Linked DNA regions of Homo sapiens: region 2 is linked to region 1. Evidence: fine-mapped expression QTL. A gene starts in region 1. The other region holds a variant in brackets. All regions are shown on one strand. Distances are from middle to middle. Region 1 holds the start of SH2D1B (SH2 domain containing 1B). Region 2 has its middle 10 kb from the start of UHMK1.

Evidence for each region. PIP is the estimated chance that this variant, and not a neighbour inherited with it, causes the effect. A credible set is the group of variants that fine-mapping cannot tell apart.
Region 2: its variant is the best candidate, but not a certain one, in a credible set for the expression of SH2D1B in skeletal muscle (GTEx, PIP 0.79).

Annotation. Positions count from the first base shown.
Region 1 is chr1:162,410,266-162,414,663 of GRCh38, reverse strand. It overlaps SH2D1B (SH2 domain containing 1B), which reads left to right and starts at 2,528. Exons shown (of 4, transcript NM_053282.5): 1 at 2,528-2,781. The coding sequence starts at 2,648.
Region 2 is chr1:162,485,351-162,489,748 of GRCh38, reverse strand. No RefSeq gene overlaps it. Among named protein-coding and RNA genes, the nearest start is that of UHMK1, 10 kb to the left of the region's middle. The variant A/C (reference allele first, on the strand shown) is at 2,135.

The sequences.
Region 1 (4,398 bases):
TGTAAAACAATTATGGCCGGGCGCTGTGGCTCACGCCTGTAATCCCAGCACTTTGGGAGGCCGAGGTGGGTGGATCACGAGGTCAGGAGATTGGGACCATCCTGACTAACATGGTGAAACCCCGTCTCTACTAAAAATACAAAAAATTAGCTGGGCGTGGTGGCAGGGGCCTGTAGTCCCAGCTATTCGGGAGGCTGAGGCAAGAGAATGGCATGAACCCAGGAGGCAGAGCTTGCAGTGAGCCGAGATCGCACCACTGCACTCCAGCCTGAGCGACAGAGTGAGACTCTGTCTCAAAACAAAACAAAACAAAACAAAAAAACAATTACATGATTCTACATTCAAAACTCCACAGCAGGCTGGGCGCAGTGGGTCACATCTGTAATCCCAGCACTTTGGGAGGCCGAGGCAGGCAGATCACTTGAAGTGAGGAGTTTGAGACCAGCCTGGGCCACATGGTGAAACCCTGTCTCTACTAAAAATACAAAAATTAGCTAGTCATGGTGGCACGTGCCTGTAGTCCCAGCTACTTGGGAGGCTGATGTGGGAGAATTGCTTGAACCAGGGAGGCAGAGGTTGCAGTAAGCCGAGATCACACCACTGCACTCCAGACTGGGTAACAGAGTGAGATTCTGTCTCAAAACAAAACAAAACAAAAAACCAACAACTCTACAGCAAGTTTTACTGAGAGAAGTCTCACCTCTATGCATGTTTCCGCTCTCCTCTTAGAGGCAGAAGTTTTTAGTTTTAATTAGTTTTAGTTTTGTTCTTCCAGTGGGTGTTTCGTTTGTTTTTTAAATATGAGCAAATATTATAAATGTATATATTTATTTATATCCCCCATACTCTATATACTATTGTGCATCTTGCTGCTTTCACCTAAAAATACATCCTGAAGATTATTGCATATCAGCATATAGAGATCTTCCTCAATCCCATTTTATTATTCTATAGTAATATTCCATTGTATACATGAATCACAGTTTATTCACCTGTCCCTCTATTCACAAGTCTTTGAGTTGTTTGTAATCTTTTTCTATTAAAAAATACTACCTTATTCACAAGTCATTTTCTAATTCTGCCTGTGTAGTTTTGTGACAGATTTCTAGAACTGAGATTGTTCTATCAGATGGTGAAGGCATACATAAATTTGCAAGATATTGCCAAACCATCTTTTACTATAGTTGTAACTATTTTTTATTCCAACTAATGATATACAAGATATTCTATTTTCTTTCACCATGACCAACCCAATAAGCTTTCAAACTTTTGATTTTCACCCATATGATAGGTGAGAGTTGTTATCTCAGCATGCAGGTAATTTGCATTTCTTTTATTGTGAGGGTTGGATTTTGAAACAGCAAAAAGGGCAAGGAAGCCCCTGTGATGACCAAGAGCCTGAGCATGCTTTCAGTTATTTCCTCTCTTATGTCAAAAAGCATCTTTACACCACGATTGTGAATTTATTCACAAGAAATACCAAATTTCTTCTTTCATTATTAACAACTCTGTCTTCAACTGCCATAGTTTCCAGAGAATTGAATAATGAATTGTCCAAAACCACAGAAGAAAAGTTGCTATTTGAGAGCATATCTGTCTGATAACGAGTTCCCTGATCAGTGAAACTGCACTATGCCAAATGCAGAGTGGGAATTCCAAGGAAGAACAAAGATCTGTTACAAGGAAGTTCCATAGAAGATACACCCAACTGTGAGTAAACAGCTGGTAAGCAAAGTAGCAAGGTGAAATAAACATCTAGGTTAAGAAGAAGTTAAGATCTCCAGGTACTACGGAGATGAAGAAAACAAAAAAAAGAAGAAGTTAAGAGAAGTAAAGATGAATCGTTAGCACATAGTTCTATTTTCATAGATAACATTTTTGAGATATATATAGTGATTTTCTGTAGATATATGAGTATACCCAGATATCCCTCCCACCTACACCAGCCCTTTCTCCAAAAGGAACAATGCTTGAGGGTGTTCAAATGGCCTTTTTTCACCAGTGGCTGGGAGCCTTAGCCATGGAATGGGCTGTCCTCATCCACAGTGTCCCACTGTTTTTTATTGCCATTAATGTCTTCCATTTTTAGTGTCATTTGATCCACGGAAATCCCACCCTTTCAATTTTCCCATTGTATCTGAGCATATCAATTCTCTCAGCATCCAAATGGTTTTTGAGCACCCAGTCTAAGCTAAGCATAGCCCAATCCTAGGCAACTTCAGCAGAAAATGGGTACCATTACAGCAAAAGCAGCGGTGTGCTTCCTGGAAAGGATACCAGTAGCCAAAGAAGTTGATGATAGTCCATGGTAATATACAAGGCTGCAACACAGTTCCAGGAAGCTTGACTTCAGCATTGCCTCCCTAGCCATGAGCATCACTGATTCCATTGTGTGTTTAAATGTGCTTTACCTACTTCTGTGAGTCACATGTGGGCCATTTAGAGGGTGAAAAGTGTTGGTCATTTTATCACCCCGCCCTCCTCATTTCCTGAATCTTGTGAAGCTGGCTGAGTCCCACAGACCGCTAGAGGAAGAGGTAGCTCCACAGGAGGTACAGCTGCTTACACATCTCTCCTCAGAGCTGTCCCTTGACTTGGGGGTGAATTTCAGGCCAACAGGGCTTCCTGGGATACAAGAGCGTTCTCCATGGATCTGCCTTACTACCATGGACGTCTGACCAAGCAAGACTGTGAGACCTTGCTGCTCAAGGAAGGGGTGGATGGCAACTTTCTTTTAAGAGACAGCGAGTCGATACCAGGAGTCCTGTGCCTCTGTGTCTCGTGAGTAGCCTCATCTTGCACACATCTGACATCGTATGTTGAATGTGGCAATGGCTGCCACACAGTACAGGAATTCATATCCCTCAGTATTTCACTCTGACTTTGGAGTCTCAATGAGTAGAATGAGAAGTAATGGACACTGCCAGGAGAGGAATGTATCTGTCCATGCTCCTCCATCTGCCTGCTCTCCCTGGTGTAAAGGCCCTGCAAGCAGACTCTGCAGCAGCAGGAGGGACATGGTGGTGGTGAAGGGAAGGGCTGCAGGAAGTACAGGGGTACAGAGGGATGGAAAGAAGGTACAAATGTCAGAGGTCCTGTCCTCCAGAGATCTGTTTATTTGGTATGGAAAAGGCTAGGGGTTCTTCAAGAAATTTCAATCTGAAACACTTATTCTGCAGCATCTGCTTGCAATACGTAAACTATAAATACAATCATATTTCACATTTTGTTAGATTTGTGAAGGACTTCAATATTCGTCATTTCCTTTCATCCTAGTAGTCTATCAAGGCAAGCATAAGCAGTCACCATTTCATAGGTAAAGAAACAGAGACCTGAATTTCTCAAATAATTTGTTTGTGTTAAAACTCATTTGGAATTTCCAGAGTCTAAGTTAAACATGAAATTCCAGGCTGGGCATGGTGGCTCATGCCTGTAATCCCAACACTTTGGGAGGCTGAGGCAGGTGAATCACTTGAGGTCAGGAGTTTGAGACCAGCCTGGCCAACACGGCAAAACCCCATCTCTACCAAAAATACAAAAATTAACCTGGTGTGGTGGCGTGTGCCTGTAATACTGGCTACTTGAGAGGCTGAGACAGGAGAATCACTTGAACCCAGGAGGCAGAGGCTGCAGTGAGCTGAGATTGCACCACTGCACTCCAGCCTGGGCAATAGAGTGAGACTCTGTCCAAAAAAAAGAAAAAAGAGTGGCTGGGCACAGTGGCTCACTCCTGTAATCCCAGCACTTTGGGAAGCGGAGGCAGGTGAATCACCTGAGGTCGGGAGTTCGAGACCAGCCTGACCAACACGAAGAAACCCCGTCTCTACTAAAAATACAAAATTAGCCAGGTGTGGTGGCGTATGCTTGTAATCCCAGCTATTTGGGAGGCTGAGGCAGGAGAATCACTTGAACCCGGGTGGTGGAGGTTGCAGTGAGCTGAGATTGTGCCATTGCACTCCAGCCTGGGCAACAAGAGCAAAACTCCATCTCAAAAAAAAAAAAAAAAAGAAAAAGAAAAACAAATTCCAGGCCACAGTATCAAAGAGACCTAGCTGAAGGAACTTGTTTATGCCCAGTTTAGAAAGCAATCCTGAACAGAAATCACTAGAAACCTCCTATCTTTATGTATGTTCCTCTTTGTAAAGTAGGGACCACTGAACCTTTTATTATACCTGTAACAGAAATTAAAATCCAAATGTCTCTTGTTAAAGAAAAAAATTACTCAATGTCACTTGTTAAATTATGGTTGGGAAGACTTTATTCAGGATCATCACAAAGGTACAGGGACCACTGCAATGAGCTCTTGCGGCACAGAAAAGAGACTGGACTCAACTCTGAATCCAGCATGGACAAGTGGGAATTTATGGCCAAGGAGCAGTGTGGCTGTCGGTAGACAGA
Region 2 (4,398 bases), 75 kb before region 1:
CTCTGTCGCCCAGGCTGGAGTGCCACGATGTGATCTTGGCTCACTGCAACCTCCGCCTCCCAAAGTCAAGAGATTCTCCCTGCCTCAGCCTCCATAGTAGCTGGGATTACAGGTGCCCGCCACCACGCCCAGCTAATTTTTGTATTTTTAATAAGAGACAAGGTTTCACCATGTTGGCCAGGCTGGTCTTGAACTGCTGATCTCAGGTGATCTGCCCGCCTTGGCCTCCCAAAGTGCTAGGATTACAGGCATGAGCCACCACACCCAGACAACTTTTCATTTCTTTCAAGTGTTTGCCCAAATGTCCTTAATTGATGAAGTTCTCTTGATCACATTTATATAAATTAGCCATTCCTTACTTCCCTGGTATCCTCTGCACCCCTTACTTTGCTTTCATTTCACTCTGTATCACCTTGGACATAGTATATAATTCATTTTTTAAATTAGATTCCCCTGTCTAAAATAAGGACGAGTTTGATTTTGATTTGTTCACCGCTGTATTTCCAGTGCCTGGAATAGTGTCTGGAACATTATTAAGCTCTTAACAAATGTTTGTTAAATGGTTGTCTATTTTTCAGGCAGCAACAGGAGGCTAGTGGATGGAGAGGGGATGACAACCAGTAGGAGAAAATGGAAAAACCAGAAGATGGACTTTAACAAAGGGCATTATGTCTTAAGGAGGAAAGACAATTAGAAATAGAACTGAGGGGCCGGGCGCAGTGGCTCATGCCTGTAATCCCAGCACTTTGGGAGGCCGAAGTGGGCGGATCACGAGGTCAGGAGATTGAGACCACCCTGGCCAACATGGTGAAACCCCGTCTCCACTAAAAATACAAAAATTAACTGGGCGTGGTGGCATGGGCCTGTAGTCCCAGCTATTTGGCAGGCTGAGGCAGGAGAATCACTTGAACCCAGGAGGCGGAGGTTGCAGTAGTGGAGATCGCACCATTGCACTCCAGCCTGGGTGACAGAGCGAGACTCCATCTCAGAAAAAAAAAAACAGAAATAGAACTGAGGAAGGTAGAGAACAGAGAAACTGATGTGAGTGAAACACACCTGCCTTACAAGATTAAAGGTGTTTGGCCCATTGCTGGGGCCACATGAGAACAAATTAAGAGTCCCAAAAGGGTTTAATGTGTTCATGAGTCAAGGTCAAGATTTGGGGCTTTATTTATTTCATCTCCTGCCACTACCCTCTGACTGAGATGAGAGTTTCCCAAACAAGTGAGACATATGAGACAGACAATGTAGCCGGAGGGTTAGGTGGCAGTGATTGGCAATCTCCACCTGGAGTCTCAGCTCCAAGATAAGCCCTAAGGTTCCCTCTGGAACATCAGTCTGTACTTTTCTATATTTAGAGGAAGTCTCAAGTGTAGGACGATTGCTGCAGTCTGGAGTCTTCACTGGTACAGCAAGATGATGGATTGTTTTTCAGTACTTGTTTCCTCCTATGTAATGATTATTTTTTTCTTTGTAGCTTCACATTACTGGTTTGCTGCGTTGCTGTTCCCCAGACCAAGCAGAAGCATCTGTAACGTCTGAAGGAAGAACCCAGGCCCGCAGCTCACCCACTACAGAACCTAGGGACCTTATCCTTCTTCCAGGTAGGGAAGTCTTCAGCTGTTTTTTTCTAATTATCAATCCTGGACCAAGATTGTTTCATGTAGAATTGAAGGGTACTAAAGGATGAAAGACAGGAAGGATGAGGGAGAGGCAAACGTGGTGGGGGAAGAAGAGGCAAAAGAAAAGGGCACTAGGCAGAGCAGGGCATTTCTTTCTTTCTTTCTTTCTTTCTTTCTTTCTTTCTTTCTTTCTTTCTTTCTTTCTCTCTCTCCTTTTTTCTTTCTTTCTTTCTCTTTTTTTTTTTTTTGAGTTGGAGTCTTGCACTGTTGCCTGGGTTGGAGTGCAGTGGCACGATCTTGGCTCACTGCAACCCCCACCTCCCTGGTTCAAGCGATTCTCCTGCCTCAGCCTCCTGAGTAGCTGGGATTACAGGTGGGTGCTGCCATGCCCGGCTAATTTTTGGCATTTTTAGTAGAGATGGGGTTTCACTATGTTGGCCAGGCTGCATTTTTAGTAGAGATAGGGTTTCACTATGTTGGCCAGGCTGCTCTCGAACTCCTGACTTCGTGAT[A/C]TGCCCACCTCAGCTTCCCAAAGTGCTGGGATTACAGGCATGAGCCTCCATGCCCGGCCAGGGAATTTATTTCAACATCTTCTGTTCCTCCCTTTCTCTCCCAGCACCAACCTCCCTTTCTCTCCCAGCACCAACTAATGCTGAGAAAAGCCACTTTCACTGATGGTGACATTTGAGTCATTTGGACTTCACAACCTCTTTACTTTGATCTCCATCTTCTGGCGAGAGTGGTAATAAACAGTGAAAAGATGGTCTACAATAAACATACGTGTGCACTATTCACAATAGCAAAGACTTGGAACCAACCCAAATGTCCACCAGTGATAGACTGGATTAAGAAAATGTGGCGGCCGGGCGCGGTGGCTCACGCCTGTAATCCCAGCACTTTGGGAGGCCGAGGCGGGCGGATCACGAGGTCAGGAGATCGAGACCATCCCGGCTAAAACGGTGAAACCCCGTCTCTACTAAAAATACAAAAAATTAGCCGGGCGTAGTGGCAGGTGCCTGTAGTCCCAGCTACTTGGGAGGCTGAGGCAGGAGAATGGCGTGAACCCGGGAGGCGGAGCTTGCAGTGAGCCGAGATCCCGCCACTGCACTCCAGCCTGGGCGACAGAGCGAGACTCCGTCTCAAAAAAAAAAAAAAAAAAAGAAAATGTGGCACATATACACCATGGAATACTATGCAGCCATAAAAGAGGATGAGTTCATGTCCTTTGTAGGGACATGGATGAAGCTGGAAACCATCATTCTCAGCAAATTATCGCGAGGACAAAAAACCAAACACCACATGTTCTCACTCATAGGTGGGAATGGAACAATGAGAACACTTGGACACAGGAAGGGGAACAGCACACACTGGGGCCTGTCGTGGGGTGGGGGAAGGGGGGAGGGATAGCATTAGGAGATATACCTAATGCAAATGAAGAGTTAATGGGTGCAGCACACCAATATGGCACATGTATACATATGTAAGAAACCTGCACATTGTGTACACGTACCCTAGAACTTAAAGTATATATATATAAAAAAAAGATGGTTAGCAAAACCAAGGAAAATTTAAGGACCTTGATAATCCAGAAACTGTATGATTATAGATAATCGAGAATTGTCTCTATATTCAAAAACACTGTTTTTACTCCTGATCCTGAAATAATGGAAATCACAAACAAGATATATAAACTCAGATTGTTTTACACCATCACTTGTCACTATTTTACATGGTGTCACAAACTAACTGCATTCATTATTAATTTGCATTAAGAGCTGCATTAGTCTTTCAAATGCCAACAGCTTTTCCTCTGAACATTTTCTTTTCTGCTTATGAATTACTGTTCTGGTTTTTACAGTCTGGGCAGGTTTCCATTAAATCCTTTTTGTTTCATGGGTTCTTGTGTGATGTAATACTAAGTCATTTGCTAAATTACTATGTTCTATTATAATATGGTATTGTATATTTTAATATATCTTTTTATAGATTTTTATATTGTATTTATTCCTTTGAAGAGGAATAGACAGAGAGAGATGTATTGTTTTATTTTTTTTTTTTTTCATTGTGCTGGAGCTGTGTTATAATATAGACAGTACTGGTAGGAGTTAGGCAAAAAAAAAAAAAAAAATTGGTGTGCCATAGAAAAGGATAGATTAGTATTCTGCCTATCGCACATCCCAATCCTCATGAGGAATAGCAACACAATTTTTAAAAATCCTTTAATGTTATATGGCTGAGCAAAGGCAAGGAAAACCTCTTCTTTCCCCTCCCCGCCAAAACCTTGCTCTTCTCTTAATAAAGCTTTCAGCCATCTCTCCAAGTGGCAGCAGGACAATTCCAAAGCCTGACCTTCAGTTCTTAGCAGAGGATGTTAACAGACCTACCCTCAGTTTCCTGGCCCACCAGGACCCCAGCAAACTTTCTGTTGCCTACCAGGCTGGACTGTAGCCACACTCTAACAAGATCTGAGTCTTGACCTTATGGGATGAGTATCTTCTTCCAAACTCTTAGTTTCCTCCTTAGATATCTTCTCCCTTAACCCTATGGATGGTAGCTGTTTCCTGTATTTGCCATTCCTGTATTTTGTGAAATCCCCTTTTATACCTTTTAGTTAACCATCTTTCACTTCTTAATAATTCCATTTTTGAAAGTTTTTCCTGCTCCAATTACTGTTGTGGTTTTTGACTCATAACTAGACTCTCCCTAACATTTCTCAATCTCCTTACCCTGGAGGAATGCTTATAATAATCTTCAAGTCTCAAGGAAACCCTACATA